Homo sapiens: one gene and its partner. The protein of the gene in region 1 purifies or fractionates together with the protein of each later gene. This does not show direct contact. Each region holds a gene or a part of one and is shown on either strand. Other genes may lie near its edges. The genes, in order: MTFR1 and CTSO.

Region 1 (3,500 bases):
TTTATACAGGCAGTAAATTCGTAGAGGCTAATTTTAAAGCCAGGCCTATATGCTATAATGGCCTGTTTTCTCTTTACTGTCTTTTATTTTCCCTCAACATTTGTTTGAATTTAAAACTACATGCTCACATATCTCCAAACTTTTTATGTCCCTAAGCAAAAATGTTTTTTAAATTGCAGGAAGTGAGAATAGTGTGAAGCTAATGTGATTCTGATTAATTTCAGTATTTTATATTGGAAGAAAAGTTACTATAGCAAGTATCTATAATAATTTGTATTATTGTACTCTGGTTTTCTTTTGGTGCTTTGGAGGAGGAATGTGAGTAAGGAAGAAGAGAACTGAGGGAAGTGTTAATCTTTGGTTAAGGATTTAAAAATTGTTACAGAATTTCATCTTCCCATTTTCACTCCTTCCCCCTTCCCAACACACACTTTTAATTTTCCCTTAGCTCCCTGAGAATTAAGAATTTACATTTTGTTGGGTCCTAACTTTTTAAAGATCTGATTAACAGTATGGATGCTCTTCCCAGAAAAGTAACACATACACAATTTTGTGTGTAATTTTAGGGATACATGAACCTCTGCATTAATGCATTAATATCACATAGCTTGTCTTGAAAAATATATTTTATTTATTTTTGTTTGTTCTTTGAGACGAAATCTTGTTGTGTCCCAGGCTGGAGTGCAGTGGCGCATTCTTGGCTCACTGTAGCCTCTGCCTCCCGGATTCAAGTGATTCTCCTGCCTCAGCCTCCTGAGTAGCTGGGATTACAGGTGCCCGCCATCACCCCTGGCTAATTTTTGTATTTTTAGTAAAGACAGGGTTTCACCATGTTGGCCAGGCTGGTCTCGAACTCCTGACCTCAAGTGATCCACCCTCTTCAGCCTCCCAAAGTGCTGGGATTACAGGCGTGAGCCACCACACCCAGCCAGAAAAACATATTTTTCTTAGAGTTAAATTTATAGTTTTTCCTGCTAAAAGTTGCCCTCAAATAATAATGTATGTAAAACTAGTCTATAATAAATGAATTACCACATACAGCTTGAGTGCAGTCATCATGGATGAGACAGATGACAGCTTCAGATTCCAGCCTCACACGTCAACACTTTCTACAATAGCATTTCACAATGTTAAAAAAGAACAAACTACTTTCCTGTTGTCATCCTCCTCCTTGCTGTCATCACTTTCAAACACTGTTGCTAAATGTTATGGACTGTCATTACTAGACACAGACATGCATGTGCGCGCACACACACACACAGATTCACTGTTAGATTATTTAAAAAAGCAGTTTTCATAGATAAAGCATGGTTTTTCTGTTTAGCTATTTCTCTCTTTTTTTTTTTTTTTTTTTTTTTGAGACAGAGTCTCGCTCTGTCACCCAGGATGGAGTGCAGTGGCGCGATCTTGCTCACTGCAACCTCCACCTCCCGGTTCAAGCAATTCTGCCTCAAGCCTCCTGAGTAGCTGGGACTACAGGCGTGTGCCACCACGCCTGGCTAAGTTTTTATATTTTAGTAGAGACGGGGTTTCGCCACATTGGCCAGGCTGGTCTCGAACTCCTGACCTCAGATGATCCACCCGCCTCGGCCTTCCAAAGTGCTGGGATTACAGGCATGAACCACTGCGCCTGGCCCTGTTTAGCTGTTTCTTTTTTTTTTTTTTTTTTGAGACGGAGTCTTGCTCTGTCCCAGGCAGGAGTGCAGTGGCACGATGTCAGCTCACGGCAACCTCTGCCTCCCAGGTTTAAGCTATTCTCCTGCCTTAGCCTCCTGAGTAGCTGGGATTACAGGCGTGCACCACCACACCTGGCTAATTTTGTATTTTTAGTAGAGACAGGGTTTCACCGTGTTACCCAGGCTGGTCTTGAACTCCTGAGCTCGTGACCCGCCCACCTCGGTCTCCCAAAATGCTGGGATTACAGGCGTGAGCCACCACGCCCAGCCAGCTATTTCTTAATGGCATTGGATTGTCTTATTTTCTAAATGAAATTGGATTATCTTGCCAGGCTTGGTGGCTCACGCCTGTAATCCCAGCACTTTGGGAGGCTGAGGTGGGTGGATCATGAGGTCAAGAGATCGAGACCATCCTGGCCAACATGGTGAAACCCCGTCTCTACTAAAAATACAAAAATAAGCCAGGTGTGGTGGCACGTGCCTGTAGTCCCAACTACTGGAGAGGCTGAGGCAGGAGAATTGCTTGAACCTGGGAGGCAGAGGTTGCAGTGAGCTGAGATCATGCCACTGCACTCCAGCCTGGCAACAGAGGGAGACTCTGTCTCAAAAAAAAAAAAAAAAAGAAATTGGATTATTTTATGACCATTTTCTTCTCCCTGCCTTCTCTCTTTCATCTAAAGAAATATTAATGACAGTTTGTCTTTAGAGGAAGTCTTTCCTTCTCTAAACTAGCATACTGACAAGACATAGTTCAGCCACAAGTTACGGTAGGAGATGCACTTGGGTCATACAGCCTCCCAATGCACAGATGGTGACTTTTCAGTACCATCTGTTCACTGTTTCTGTACAGCCATTTACAATTTCTCCCCCTCTATGAGGGCTGAATAGAAAAAAATAGAAAAGTAGTCAGACCTAGTTTTAGAGTTCCTGGAAATTAGCTATTCTTTCCCCTCACTTTTTCCTACCATCCAATAAAGGTTATGGCTCTTCATTCTAAATATTTCAGTCATTAGTTTACACAGACCCTTATTTGATATTTATTGGTGCTAAGTACTATGTAATTCACAAGTAACAGAAGAACACATTATGTTAGTCTACTGTGTATGCTTGAAAAAATAATCACATAAAGCAATCTGTTCTTTTCCTTCCTTTAACTTTGTAGAAGATACCTAAATAATCTACTTATTCCTTATAATTAAAAGCTGAATCGGCTGGGCGTTGTGGCTCATGCCTGTAATCCCAGCACTTTGGGAGGCCGAGACGATTAGATCACCTGAGGTCAGGAGTTCGAAACCAGCCTGGCCAACATCGTGAAACCCCGTCTCTACTAAAAATACAAAAATTAGCTGGGCATGGTGGCACCTGCCTATAATTCTAGCTAGATAGAATTGCTGTAACCCAGGAGATGGAAGTTTCAGTGAGCCGAGATCGCACCACTGCACTCCAGCCTGGGTGACAGAGCGAGACTCCATCTAAAAAAATTTAAAAAAAAAAGCTGAATCATTGGCCACTTCTCTTGTTGAAGGCACCTAGTATTTTTCTGATATTAAACAGATGGAAACATAATAGTTGACATTTCACCCTGCAACATGCGTAGTGAAGAATGCTAAAAGCAGGCAGAAACATAGTTCCTGACCTTGGCAAATCCTTTCTAAATTTTTCTTTGTGAGCTTTTTGTCCTCTTCATCTCCAGACAAGACCTTTGCTTGCTGGAGGGGAGAAAGATTCACTTTAGACTGTCTAATTGTCACGTTGTAATGCACAAATAGCATTCCACTTGTACTACATCATAGGAGAATTTTGACTTGTGACTAAATAGAAGAC
Region 2 (4,035 bases), on another chromosome or scaffold:
TTCACCTTTGTCAAAGTTTGGAGACCCTGCTGTATGGTCACTTAGTGAGTGTTTTTACTATGCCATAGGCACTAGAGATAGAGATATAACCTTTAAAAAAGCACTTAAAGCCATAAAGTTGCTCAAAACTTAACTCTGCAAAGATATCCAATTGTCATTCCTTTTTTTTTTTGGTCTAACTCTGCCACACATGGCCCTCCAGTTATGTTAGTTTCATCCAGTCTCAAATCCTACTCTCTTCTGCCTTTTCTGTGGATCCTTCTTCCTTTTACGTGATCCTACGATCCCTAATTTCATTCCCTCTGTCTCCTCTCTTTCTTTCAGGACTAGTTCTTTTATTCTTTTGTTCTAGTTTGTTAAGTAAAAGCAAATTAAGAGATCCACTATCAGCATGATTGGCAGCCAATACTGGAGTAATGACTAATATGGATTTATATCCTTAGGACATTTCATGTACATCCACTATAAGCATACTTAATCGGGCATCTTTATAGCCTAAAGAGTAATTCATTAATATTTATTAATTCTCTTATCTCCATCAAATAATTAGCACAACATGCATCTTTCCCCTCCTCACCCTTAGGATGGAAGTGGTGTATGACCATGGAAGCAGAGTGTCCTTAAAAAAGCAAGGGGGATGGAAGGTTGGGGCGGGAGTCGGCACACACTCTCCAGAAGAAAAGCCACTTACAAAGAGAAGTCACATATTCAGTGAACTGAATGGTCTTTTAGAAGATCATCAGTTAGCCCAAGTATTTCCTCGGTCTCTAAAAATTCACTTTTATCTTGCATTGCCAAATTTAGAATAGTAATAATGCTGACAACATGAACTAATAATTAAATGATGCTCAAAAGAGACTTTTGGTTTTCTCTTTTTTTCAGTTTAAAAATCTAGAGGATAGGCGTATTTATTTTGTAGGTTTCCAGAATCTGGAAGCCTTACTTGATTTGATAACTTGTTACATTTAGAGATGTTGGTAAGTTGATTTAAACCCTGGAAATACCACCCCTTTTTCTGTTTTTAAACAGTGTGGAGGATGCTGGGCCTTCAGCGTGGTGGGGGCAGTGGAATCTGCTTATGCAATAAAGGGGAAGCCCCTGGAAGACCTAAGTGTCCAGCAGGTCATTGACTGTTCGTATAATAATTATGGCTGCAATGGAGGCTCTACTCTCAATGCTTTGAACTGGTTAAACAAGGTGACTAGTCTCTCAACCTCTTAAACTCTTTATTTCCTTTTTTGCTTGTTTACTGTGTGTTCAAAATTCAAACAGTTTGTTCACATATATTAAATAATGTTTCCACGTTCGGAAATGTAGATGATCAAAGCATGAAGTAATTAATCAGAATATTTAAAAATGAATCACTTCTAGGCAAAGCAGTTGTCAAGAAATCAAAAGGGGAAAAATCTGAAGTCTGTCTTCAGAGAAATATTTATATTTATTTCTTAACATTTCTTAATATATACATGCTTTTTTGCAGATCTGAATATCTCATAATATCCCGGAAAGATGAGAATATATTTTTTTTATTTTCATAGAATTTCTGAATGTTAAGGTTAAAAGGAACATTAGAGACTAATTTTTTAGCTCTTTTTTGTTGTTGTTGTTTTTGAGACAGAGTCTCACTCTGTCACCCAGGCTGGAGTACAGTGGCACAATCTTGGCTCACTGCAACCTCCACCTCCCGGGTTCAAGTGTTTCTGCTGCTTCAGCCTCCGGAGTAGCTGGGAACTATAGGTGCCCACCACCACACTTGGCTAATTTTTTTGTTTTTTTTGTTTTTTGTTTTTTGTTTTTGTTTTTTTAGTAAAGACATGGTTTCACCATATTGGCCAGGCTGATCTCGATCTCCTGACCTTGTGATCCACCCGCCTCAGCCTCCCAAAGTGCTGGGATTACAGACATGAGCCACCACACCCAGCCTGTAGCTCTTTTTATAGATGAAGAAATGAAGCCTGAGAAGTGAGATCATTTTGTCAAGTCAGTAGCTGAGCCGGAGTTGTACCTTCAGTCCCCAGCCTCTCACAGTAGGGCTTTGCTCAGTATACCCCAGTGTCCCTCAGCGTTCTTAGCACTTGCCCTGACAGTGTCCCAGATCCGATATCAACTGCATGAAATTTGCCAATGAGGGTGCTATTAGTTTCTGTAGAACGTCATCAAACCAGAGTTCCCCAAACCTGAATTCTCTTCCATTATCCATTGGTTGCATTTTTAATCACGTATTCCAGGACCTGCTCTGTACACACTGTAGACGACAATGAATTATGAGTCTCCTCCCTTTCATTAGCCTAGCATTCAAAAAGGGAGGGTTTTGTACAGATAACTATGAAGTATTTGACATATGCTATATGAATGGCATAAAAGTGAAGTGATAGAAAGAATGCTTGACCTAACCGTTGCCTGTGTATAAACCACTGGATGGAATCTGAAAGACTTGGCAGAACCAGAAGCACTGGGAGGAAAGTGAGCTGCCCTATAGCACCGTCAGGAGAAAGATGACAAGACTGTTACTAGATCCATGGAGGATCTACAAAAGGATGCTGTAAGATAAAGAGAAGTAAGGGAGAAGGAAAGATATTGACTCCAAATGTCTAGACTATCCAGAACAAGCACCTAAAGATTTAATTTATAATATTAAAAACCCAAAGTATAGGCTGGGCACAATGCCTCACACCTGTAATCCCAGTATTTTGGGAAGCCAAGGCAGGTGGATTTCTTGAGTCCAGGAGTTTAAGACCAGCCTGGGCAACAGAGTGAGACCCCATCTTTACAAAAAATACAAAAAATTAGCCTGGCGTGGTGGCTCATACCTGTAGTCACAGCTACTGGGGAGACGGAGGTGGGATGATCACTGGTGCCCAGGAGGTGGAGATTGCAGTGAGACGAGATCGAGCCACTGCACTCCAGCCTGAGCAACCAAACAAAACTCTGTCTCAAAAAAGAAAAAGAAAAAAAAAAGAACGCAAAGTATATCCACATGATGAAGGTGTGTGAAATTGAACCTGTTTTGACACAGTGAAGTAAGTTCTATTTGATTTATAAAACAATTGACAGTAAACATGTTCAGTGATTGTTTTCTTTTAGATGCAAGTAAAACTGGTGAAAGATTCAGAATATCCTTTTAAAGCACAAAATGGTCTGTGCCATTACTTTTCTGGTTCACATTCTGGATTTTCAATCAAAGGTTATTCTGCATATGACTTCAGGTAAAGATCTTATTGTATTATGTTTTTCTTTATACATTTTTAATTTATGATCTATTGACTGGTTAATAATTTGTTTGAAGGCATCACTGCATACTCTTAATCCTTGTAAAACATACTTTTTACTAGAAAGAGTAGCAATTACAATGAAATGTTGTAAATGTTGTTTCTTAATTATAATCTACTTATTTTCCCAAGTGTCATTACGATAGAAATGAAAAATTTTAATTCTGTGTAAGGTACAATTTATATGTATATTTATTTGTTATATTTTATATTTTATTATACTTACAAATTATTAGTGCATAATTTATATTTATATATACCACCTTCATCTTATCAAATTTAGGTGTTATATTACCATTAGCATATTTCAATCTTAATGGTGAGTCCATCCAGAATTGCTTTGTACAGACTGTGCAGCTAATATCACGTAGGCTACATATCAGGAAGCATATTTTGAACACCTTCTATGTTCTTTGCATTTTTCAAGACATCAGCCATTTGAAAAATATAACACAAAACTTCAGATTAGAGAAAAGAGGGAAGCATATACTACTGAAGATAAATTATGTAGCATACACTATAAGCATGATGGGAATGTAGGGATAGATAAAGACAGGCTGAGGAAAAGGACTTGTGTTGGAACTGAAGGGCAGGATAACTTTGGATAGTTTTGGGGAAAACAATCATTAAAAATGCTTTAAAAACACATGAAAAACACAGAGCTGGCTGGAGACTCATCATGACCATTTGATAGAGTGCAAAATAGGTGTTCATGGGTGAAAAGGACAAAGGGAGACCCAACCAACTCCTGGCTTCATTAAGAAAA

The links.
Region 2: the proteins of MTFR1 (region 1) and CTSO purify together in Homo sapiens (affinity purification with mass spectrometry; one large-scale study listed by BioGRID and IntAct). This does not show direct contact.

The regions. Positions count from the first base shown.
Region 1 is NC_000008.11:65,675,734-65,679,233, forward strand, and holds part of MTFR1 (mitochondrial fission regulator 1 isoform 1 precursor), read left to right. Parts: intron 1-3,500. UniProt on the Homo sapiens protein: May play a role in mitochondrial aerobic respiration. May also regulate mitochondrial organization and fission.
Region 2 is NC_000004.12:155,936,533-155,940,567, reverse strand, and holds part of CTSO (cathepsin O preproprotein), read left to right. Parts: intron 1-1,029; coding exon 1,030-1,197; intron 1,198-3,084; coding exon 3,085-3,206; intron 3,207-4,035. UniProt on the Homo sapiens protein: Proteolytic enzyme possibly involved in normal cellular protein degradation and turnover.